Linked DNA regions of Homo sapiens. The protein of the gene in region 1 interacts with the protein of each later gene in a pairwise test. Each region holds a gene or a part of one and is shown on either strand. Other genes may lie near its edges.

The links.
Region 2: the proteins of MS4A13 (region 1) and TM4SF18 interact in binary tests that used the Homo sapiens proteins (3 or more experiments, as listed by UniProt).
Region 3: the proteins of MS4A13 (region 1) and POMK interact in binary tests that used the Homo sapiens proteins (3 or more experiments, as listed by UniProt).

The regions. Positions count from the first base shown.
Region 1 is NC_000011.10:60,539,346-60,543,103, forward strand, and holds the end of MS4A13 (membrane-spanning 4-domains subfamily A member 13), read left to right. Parts: intron 1-3,173; coding exon 3,174-3,230; 3' UTR 3,231-3,376; downstream 3,377-3,758. UniProt on the Homo sapiens protein: May be involved in signal transduction as a component of a multimeric receptor complex.
Region 2 is NC_000003.12:149,323,511-149,327,168, forward strand, and holds part of TM4SF18 (transmembrane 4 L6 family member 18), read right to left. Parts: intron 1,513-3,658; coding exon 1,370-1,512; intron 1-1,369.
Region 3 is NC_000008.11:43,117,417-43,120,784, reverse strand, and holds part of POMK (protein O-mannose kinase), read right to left. Parts: intron 1-3,368. UniProt on the Homo sapiens protein: Protein O-mannose kinase that specifically mediates phosphorylation at the 6-position of an O-mannose of the trisaccharide (N-acetylgalactosamine (GalNAc)-beta-1,3-N-acetylglucosamine (GlcNAc)-beta-1,4-mannose) to generate phosphorylated O-mannosyl trisaccharide (N-acetylgalactosamine-beta-1,3-N-acetylglucosamine-beta-1,4-(phosphate-6-)mannose).

The DNA.
Region 1 (3,758 bases):
AACCACTAGAGGAACTCAAGAACAGAGGTGAGCTGACAAAAAACAAAATAAACAGACATAAAGAGAGCAAAAAAGATATTGCCCAGTCCGAAGAACAGGAAAAAAAGAAAATGAAGAAAACTGTACAGAACCTCAAAATCCTTTGAGATACCATCACATGTATAATGGGAGTCCCATAAAAATGGGGAGTACCAGAAAAAAAATTAAAGAAATAATGGCTCCCAAATTCCCCTAATTTCATGGAAAACATTCAATACATCCAAAAAGCTCAAGGATCTTCAAGTAAAATAAACACAAAGAGATCCTCCTAGACACCTCCATGTCAAACTGATAAAAAAGAAAATCTTGAAAGCAGCAAAAAAAAATAAAAACAAGACTCTTCATATATAAGGGAACCACAATAATATAAACAGCTGGGTTCTCATCCAAAACAATGGAGGCCTGAAGGTAGTGGAATGGGATATTAAAGTGCAGGGGGAAAAACAGTCAGGCAGGAATTCTTTATCCTTTAAAACTATCCCTCAAAAATGAAGGTGAAATACAGACATACACAGATGAATAATGTGTTGCTAGCAGAAATTCCTCATGAGAAACACTAAAGGAAGTTCTTTAGACTGAAGTGACATCAGATGAAACTCAAATGCACATGAATAAATAAAAAAAGTGCCAGTAAAAGTAATTATGTAGGTGGTTATGAAAATCAGTATAAATACATCTTTTGTGTTTTCTTCTGTTAACTGATTTAAAAGACAGTAGCATTAATTGCATTGGGCTCACCCAGGTAATCCAGGATGATTACCTTAATTTAAGGTCGTGTTATTAGTAACATTAATTCCATCTGTCATAACTACTCAGCTCCACCTTTTAGCATGAAAGTATTCATAGACAATACATAAAGGAATGGATATGGCTTGTTCCAGCAAAACTTTATTTGCAAAAACGGGAGTGGGCTAGATTTGGTCCATGTATCATAGCTTGCCAACCCTTCTTCAATAGACAGTTTCTCAATTTTTCTCTTAAATTTTAAAAGATAAGATTATAAAAGCAGTAATTATAACACCATATTGGTAGTTACATAATATATATAGATAGAATAGATGACAATAATAGCACAAAGAAAAGGAAAGGGAATGAGTTATATGGGAATAAAGTTGCTGTATTTTACTGGAATTGAATTAGCATTCATCTGAAGTAGACTGTGATAAATTAGGGTGCTTATTTAGTGATTAAGCAAGCTAAAAATATAATAGCTTAAAAACAAGGGAATTAACATACACAAAGTATGTTTAATTTTTAAAAAATAAAGAAAGAACACAATGGCCAGGCTTGGTTGGTTAACACCCATATTCCCAGCATTTTGGGAGGCCAACTCGGGAAGACCATATGAGCCCAGGAGTTCAAGACCAGCCTGGGCAACATGACGAGACCTCATCTCTACAAAAAAGTAAAAATAAAAACACTAGCTATGCATAGTGCCACATGCCTGTGGTCCCAGCTACTTAGGCAGCTGAGGTGGGAGGATCACTTGGAACCCAGGAGGTCAAGGCTGCAATGAGCCATATTCAGGCCACCGTACCCCAGTGTGGGTGACAGAGTAAAACCCTATCTCACAAAAAAAAAAAAAAAGGAAAGGAAAAGAAAACACATGAGACGTGTATAAAACAAATAATAAAATGTCAGATATAAATCTATTCATTGTAATAATAACATTAAAATGACAGAGATATTTTAAAGTACCTACTGGAATGACTGAATTTCAAACTATTGACAATGCCAACTGATAGCAAAGATTGTAGATAAAAGAAATATCTCTCAAACTCCTAGTTGAAATATAAGTTATTGCAACAATTTTTAAAACCTTTTGGGCATTACCTACTAAAAATTAAAATGTGCATACCCTATGATCAGTAATTTAAGTCTTTGGTATATAACCAACAGAAATGTTTGCGCTTATGCATTAAGATAAACTTCCAGGAATATATAGAGAGCAGTATTATTCATAGTAGTCCCAAAGTGGAAACAACACAGGTGGGTGAGTGATGAATAAGTTGAGGTGTATTACTTCATTCAAATTTGACATGGTGATTAAAAGCAACTATACCTGCACTTAACATCATGGATGGATCTTACAAATAAAATGTTGAGTATAAAAACTCAAAAGAATGCATACTTGTAAAAAAATCCATTCATATGAAGTTTGAAACCAGGTAAAACTAAAGCTAACCTATAGTGTTTAGGGATGAAGCTTAGTTCATGAAACTAGAAAAAAAATTGACCTTATCTAAAAGTCAAAATGACCATTACCTTGAAGGGAAGGAATAGGTAATGGTTGAGAAATGTCATGAGAGGCTAGGGTGCTGGCATCTATTAAGATTTATGTTCAAGAAGACTATGGTTATTTTTATTATAAAAGTTTGAAGGTACACCAAAAGATACAAGTGATCCAACAGAAATTAAGAAAGTAGGTTGAAGGCTGGGCATGGTGGCTCACACCTGTAATCATAACACTTTGGGAGTCTGAAGCAGGAGGATCACTTGAGGCCAGGAGTTCAAGATCAGCTTGGTCAACATGGTGAAACCCCGTCTCTACTAAAAATACAAAAAAATTAGCCAGGCATGGTGGCACAGGCCTGTAATCCTAACTACTCGGGTGGCTGGGGCATGAGAATCTCTTGAGTCTGAACCTGAAAGAGAGGTGGTTGCAGTGAGCCGAGATCGCACCACTGCACTCCAGCCTGGGCGACATGACCTTGAAAACAGAACAAGACCTTGAAAAAAAAAAAAAACCCAAGGAAGGAAGGAATGTAGGAAGGAAAAAGAGAGAGAGAGAAAGAAAGAAGAAAGGGAAGAAAGGGAGGAAGGGAGGAAGGAAAGAAAGAAAGGAAGGAAGGAAGGAGAAAGAAAAAGAGAAAGAAAGAAAGAAAAAGGAAAGAAAGAAAGAGAAAGAAAGAAGAAAGGGAGGAAGGGAGGAAGGGAAGAAAGAAAGAAAGAGAAAGAGAAAGAAAGGAAGAAAGAAATAAGGTTGAAATAGGAATGGGACAGAAATAGGATACTTTAAGATTTCACTCTATAAATATCAGTATTACCTGTATTTTTTAAGAAAAAGATCTATTTATTAGTTGTATAATATTAAGAAACATGATATGATTTGTAAGAGGTTACTTTTTTTCCAGTTTCGAAGACAAAATGATCTTACATCTGTTACTGAGGAAGCTGAGAGCACTCCTTAAAAACCCTAGAAATATGAGAATTTTGCTGTTGCTGATGCCTGGTGTGGGTCCTAATGATATCTCTGTATAACAAAGCAGTTACGAAGCCTACAGATTTTGTGCAAAATAAAATACAAACAAGGTGAATTTTTCTCCTCATTCAAAAATGTCTCTGCTTATATTTTTCTAGGCTGCAAGGAAAGTTTTTCCCTATTTAAATATGAGATTATTACAGGATGAATGTGTTATCTAGGTACGCTGAATAGCTGTCAACTCTCCATAATAAAGCTTTTGTAAGAGACTGTAAAAAAGATTCATTATTATCTCTAGAGTGAAGGCTATAAAGACTTGGGCCATGATGTCGTATAATTCACAGGAAAACTTTAAATACTTATGTCCATACAAGCAGAAAGCACATTTTACAGTCTGAGTTCTTCTACTTTAACTAGCTTCTATCAAAGTATGAATCAAAAGGCCTCTAATTCATATTTCCTTCATTGTTCTTTGACTTCTCTTCTCCTTATTTAAAGTTCCTTTCTGCCCTGAACA
Region 2 (3,658 bases), on another chromosome or scaffold:
TGGCTGGAGCCGCGGCAGAGAAACATGAATTGTGAAGATTTCATGGACATTTATCAGTTCCCAAATAATACTTTTATAATTTCTTATGCCTGTTTTTACTCTAATCTCTTAATCCTGTTATCTTCATAAGTTGAGGATGTACACCACCTCAGGACCACTGTGATAATTGTGTTAACTGTACAAATTGATTGTAAAACATGTGGTTTGAACAATATGAAATCAGTGCACATTGAAAAAGAGCAGAATAACAGAGATTTTTAGGGAACAAGGGAAGACAACCATAAGGTCTGACTGCCTGTGGGGTTGGGCAAAAAGAGCCATATTTTTCTTCTTGCAGAGAGCCTATAAATGGATATGCAAGTAGGAGAGACCTGAGGGAGAGTCATGTTTGCTAAGAAAGGTCATGGTATATGGCACCATGTAAAAATCTTCAGAATGAAGGCAGCTACAGTCACAGAAGCAGCTCTGCCATGTAGGCCTAGATGCACATGTAAGACCTCAGATGGACATGGGCCTTGAACAATAAAGCTAATCATGGAGAGTTGAGAAGAAAATTTAACTTCCCCCAGTGAATGGTACAGACATTCCCTCATTTTACTCCATTAGAATTCTGGACCTCTTCTGTATTTCTTTCTGGGCCCTGCTACCTCCTAATCTGCATCTGGTGCTGGGAACCCAATAAGCCCAGCACAATGCCAGTGTGAGGCATTCTGAGATCCGGGATTGGGTTGTGAGACTCCTGACTGAATTACTAGCCTTCTGAGCAAGGCTACCTCTTTAGACCCTTCTCCAGTATAAGCTGCATAAGCTCTGGCTCATTCCACAAACTCCTGCACCTAATCATGTTCCTGGACCTCAGACTGTACTTTCCTGCTCATCCTGCCTTGTTCTATCTCTTTATCATCCCTCCTACTATAGCCCTGAGTGGCACCATCCAAGAGCACCATGGTTTCTCTCCTCCTCAAGCCCTTTTACACTTGTAACAGACCACATGTCCAACCTGGCCATAAAACAAAACTGAGTTCCTGGATCCACCCAGTCCATAAGCTCCAGCTGTTACCAGACCAGACCATAGTAACCACACAACTTTAATCTGAGGTATGGGAGAAACACACCTTTCATTTGGATAGCTCCATGACAACCTCAAGACATTGAATGAAAATGGCATTAAAAGACTGAAGAAAAAAATCTAAACAAAGATCTGTGCAAGAACAAATTGGTCTGGATATTAGTAAACTAACAGGGAAATTCTGCACTAAAACAGCCACATGGAACCCCAAAGTGATCATGGAAAATGAGCGTGAGCTTGAGCATGAGGCAAGGTGTTTCTGATTTTCCGACCTCCTTGGTTTGGGGAATTATTCCTTACCGTCCAGCAGTGCCTTCAAAAGCATACTCCCAGCCATCAAGGGTGCGGCAATATGGCCCTTGGACAAGACCCAAGGCAGAGATGACCAGGCAGTATCCAGAAAAAGCAATTCCGAGGGAAGAAAAGATAATTGACAGCAGTGTCTAAATTAAAACATAGAAGCAGGTTAGTACCATAGAATGCGACAAGGGGATATTGTGGATAAATTATCAGATAGCTACATTCCCCTATTCACCCAAGCTCATGCAGTCTATACAATACTAAATGCCCACATAGAAATAAAAAAAAAAGTAATCCAAACCTATTTGATCTTAAAAATAAGCTTTTAAATAACGTTTAGTTTGGCATCACATAGAGGTAACTAGGTAATTTACTAAATTTATTCTTTCCTTGTGGAATTTTGATATCAAAATAATGATCTCCTCTTATGAAAATGCAGTGAAGGATGTGATCAATCAACCCATAACTATCTATTGAAGACCTGTTATTTTCTAGGTAGAGTGGGTTCTCTAAGAATTATAAGCTATGACCTCTGCTTTCCTCTTATAAAGATATTAAAATATCTTTACAACAATATAAAGGAAAATGTCAGGTATAGTATTGAAATTTATATTCATATTCAAGTGACGATAGGATTGATGGAGAGGGGGGTGTTTTCATTTGAGTAGAGAGAATGGGTGTTATTCACAGGCAGATCAGTGCAACCAGAGTTGTGAGAAAGTAGGTTTAATCTAAGAGGGGTTTATTCAGATGAGTGAGGAGAAAGGCTCTGAAGACAGATTGACATGGTACTAATGCTGGGAAAACAAGGTTGATAGGGCACAATTCAGCCCTTGAGTAGCTTAAAAAGTGAGTACAGCTTGGTAGATCCAGGCCAGAGCTGGCCTTGAATGCCAGGTTAAGAAATCTGGACTTTATCCTTCAGGGCAAGGGACTTCCCTCCTCCCAACCTTAAAAAATGTCAAATCTACAAAAAAGTTGAAAGTATAGCACAATAAACCCCTACATATCCTTTATCTAGAATCACCTACATGAATATTTTACCATATTTGTTTGTGCTTTCTCTCTTTCTCTGTGTGTATGTGTGTATATATTCATGCAAAGTATATATGTACACCTGTACATATATACAAATATGTATTTATTATGTGTTTTTGTTACTGAGCCATTAGGTTGCAGACATTATGATATTTCACCCCTAAATATTTCAGCATACACCTCCTAAGAATAAAAACATTCTATTATTTTGTAACTTTTAAATTTTTTTTGTACAGGATCCAATAAAGGTTTATGTACAAGACTACATCTCTTTAGTTTCCTTTAATTTACACTAGTCTTTCTGCCTTTTTGTTTTTTGGGGTGTTAAACTGTTTTTAAGAATCCCTGACAGTTGTCTTGTAGATGTCTCACATTCTGGGCTTTTCTGATTATTTTCTCACAATTGAATTCAAACATTTTAGCGAGAATACTTAATGGGTGTGGTGTACATTGTGGGCCTTTCATGCTAAGGGTGGTGCTAAGTTTGATCTCTTGGTTAAGAGTATCCTTCAGATCTCTTCCCTGGATAGGTACATTTTCCTCTTGGCAATTAGTAAATAACTGCCAAGGTGATGCTTTGAGACAGTGTCATATTCTGTTTCTTAATAACATTTCAACTGATGGATTTAGCATCCACTGATGATCCTCATATTCATTGATTACCAGCAATCACTGTGGTTCCAATGTGCTGCTTTCATAATGCTATAATTTATCTGCATTTATGTTATCATTTTTCTGCACAGAACAACTTCCATTTCCCATTCCTCTCTCCTTTGCCTCTGTCTATATTTTCTGGACTCACAGATCTTCTAATTCATTGTGCTATAATCCATAAATGCGATTATTCTTTTAGATGCACAGATGGTCCAAATTCGGCCAATGTGAACATCCCTGTAGGTCAACTCCTATGCCCTTTGACATACTCATGTCATTCTTTGAACATTTTCTTGCTTTCTGGCACAAGATGTTCCAGGTTCATTTTGAGCTTACCCTGCCATAGACCTGGAAGAAGCTGGGGTTTTGTTGTTGTTGTTGTTTTGTTGTTGTTTTTGAGTTGTAGTCTCACTCTGTCACCCAGGCGGGAGTGCAGGGCCTGATCATGGCTCACTGCAACCTCCACCTCCTGGGTTCAAACGATTCTCCTGCCTCAGCCTCCTGAGTAGCTGGGACTACAGGCACGTGCCGCCACGCCTAGCTCATTTTTGTATTTTTAGTAGATATGGGGTTTCACCATGTTGGCCAGGCTGCTCT
Region 3 (3,368 bases), on another chromosome or scaffold:
AATCACTTGAACCCGGGAGGCAGAGGTTGCCGTAAGCCAAGATCACGCCACTGTGCTCCAGCCTGGGCAACAAGAGTGAAACTCTGTCTCAAAAAAAAAAAAAAAGAAAGAAATTAAGAAACAAGCAGGGTGTAATGGAGCGTACATGTACCCCCAGCTACTCAGGGGAGGCTGAGGTGGGAGGATCATTCAATATATATATATATCATGCGGTCACCAAAATGTATATATTTATACAGTTATAACAGATAAAAGTAATGGTACGGCTGGGTGCGGTGGCTCATACCTATAATCCCAGCACTTTTGGAAGCCAAGGCAGGCAGATCACCTGAGGTCAGGAGTTGGAGACCAGCCTAGCCAACATGACGAAACCTAAAACCTAAAACCTCTACTAAAAATACAAAATTAGCCGGGCATGGTGGTGCATGCCTGTAATCCCAGCTACTCAGGAGGCTGAGGCAGAAGAGTAGCTTGAACCCCAGGAGGTGGAGGTTGCAGAGAGCCAAGATCACACCATTGCACTCCAGCCTGGGTGAACAAGAGTGAAACTCCATCTCAAAAAAAAAAAAAGCAATGTTACAAATGAGAAGTATACAAAACCATTTGTATAATATTGTTCCAACTGCATAAAACGAGACAAATTTAAATTACAGCACATGGAAATCAAAGGAAATATGCTAATGCCTTAGTTGTCTTTATGTGGTAAGATTCTGGGTGATTTTTTTTTCCTTCATATCTTTTGGTATTTTCCAAGATGAACATATATTACTTTTACAACTTAAATTTTTTAACTCAAAAATATATAAAATTTCAGAAAAACTAACATTGGGAATTTAAAAAAAAAAAAAGAAAAAGAAATATTATATAAAATGGAGTTAGACCCAAGGACCATGAAGATCTTTTCTGGATCTAAGAAGGGAGGTTCATTATGGAAAAACCCAGATAACTTTGATTGGCTCATAACATTCAAATGAAAACTCTTTCAAGACTCTCTAATCCTCATATTTGAGAAATTTCACTAAGGATAATAACTTCTATTAAAAAGCTGTTTTTGGGCCGGACGCGGTGGCTCACGCCTGTAATCCCAGCACTTTGGGAGCCGAGGCAAGAGGATCACAAGGTCAGGAGATCGAGACCAGCCTGGCAACATGGTGAAACCCCATCTCTACTAAAAATACAAAATAATTAGCTGGGCGTGGTGGCGCGCGCCTGCAGTCCCAGCTACTCAGGAGGCTGAGGCAGGAGAATTGCTTGAACCCAGGAGGCAGAGGCTGAAGTGAGCCAAGATCACACCACTGCACACCAGCCTGGTTAGAGACTTCGTCTCAAAAAAAAAAAAAAAAAAAAAAAAGCTGTTTTTCACTCTGGCTGCTACATGCACTAAAAATTTCCTAATTTTTAAGGACTAGATAAGACCACATTCTAAAAGTTCAAGATTTTTTTAAATTTTCATATTGAACACACGCTCTCCATAGATTTGCATCCCACTGAATCTGATAATTGGCTCTAATACGAACAACTGAGGTTTTGTTCAGATCCATGGCTTCCTTACGCCCACCTCTGCATGGTCACCACCAGAACTGGCAATGGCTTTGGTTTTCTAGGCCCATTTTTCACCTAAAAACGATGCTGGCTTTTGGGAAGCTGCTGCTACACATTCAACAATAAGTGGGGGGCCGGCCGCAGTGGCTCATGCCTGTAATCCCAGCACTTCAAGAGGCCGAGGCGGGTGGATCACGAGGTCAGGAGATCAAGACCATCCTGGCTAACATGGTGAAATCCCATCTCTACTAAAAATACAAAAAATTAGCCGGGCATGGTGGCAGGTGCCTGTAGTCCCAGCTACTCAGGAGGCTGAGGCAGGAGAATGGCAGAATGGCATGAACCGTGGAGGCGGAGCTTGCAGTTAGCCGAGATCAGGCCACTGCACTCCAGCCTGGGCAACAGAGCGAGACTCCGTAACAACAACAACAAAAAAAACAGTAAGTTGGGGAGGCTCAGCCACAGGCCCCAGGGCTCCTGATCCCTCATTTGTGTCTCATTCATTTTTGTTTCAGATAAATGAAGATTATTAAATATTATTATGAAATACTATTAGTCTTTGAGATCACACACAAATATTTGAATCCTCCAATATAAAAAATTTGCTAGTCATGGACTGTTTAAGAATCATTTCTCACAACCTCTAATTTAGTTGCTTTTAATCATTTTCTAAAAGACTTTTATTTGGAAAGAACAGTTAAAATACTTTACTTTTTTATTATAAAATTAATCGTGAACACTTTTCTTGGTAAAAACTCAAATACAGAGGATAGGCAGGATGTCTCCCTGCCCCCAGTTTTACTTCCCGACCCAAAGGAAACCTGGTAACTGGCTGTCATCCTCCCAGAAGTTTTTCTATGCCTTTATTTATTAATGTACACTTGTAAAACAGCATTTGGGTTTGCTGTTATACTAATGGCGTTATAACATACATACATTGCAGCTCTTTTTTCATTTAACTGAGCCTCAGAAATCCTTTCCATATATACATGTAGATCTAGGCCATTCTTTTTAAAGCTGAGTAATGTTTCATAGTGTGGGCATAATACCTACACTTGTGTATTTCCAGTAAGCTTTTACAGATACTACTACCTTTTTTCTTTAAAATTAAAGTATAATATAATAAAAATACCAGGAATTTGGAATTGATGCTGTCAAAATAGACTGGATTCTTTCTTAAGATTATTATGTAGCTATAATTTTGTAAAGACCTTTAATAAGATCTTATATGATCTATTTCTAAAGACCTGGACATTTAAGTTAGTCCCTTTTCTAATGACAATGCTACAGTGTATAGCCTTATATTTACATGTCTATGTACATGCACAAATATTTTATAAGCTAGGTAGGCAGACAGAATTTACCAAATATCTATTGCCATCATTACCCTCCAAAGTCTGTGCTAGCATGCACTTTCACCAGCAGCGCATGATAGAATCTTAGGAATACACCCTTAGTCACACCAGATTATTACCACTGTTTGTAATTTGTGCCAATCAATGGATGAAAATACCTTACTCTTCTAATTTGTATTTCCCTGATTACTAATAAGGCTAGGCATTTGTCATCTTTTTAGGCATTTCTGTATTTCTGCTGTCAAAAGTCTGTTCACTGTCCTTTATCCAATTTTCTATAGGGTTGTCTGCCTTGTGCTTATTAATTACTGGGAGCTCTTTATATATACTTGACCCTTGAACAACACGGGTTTGAACTGCGCAGTTCCACTTACACACAGATTTTCTTCTGCCTTTACCACCCCTTGGATACCAAGACCAACCTCTTCCTTTCCTCCTCCTCCTCAGCCCACTCACTGTGAAAAAACCAAG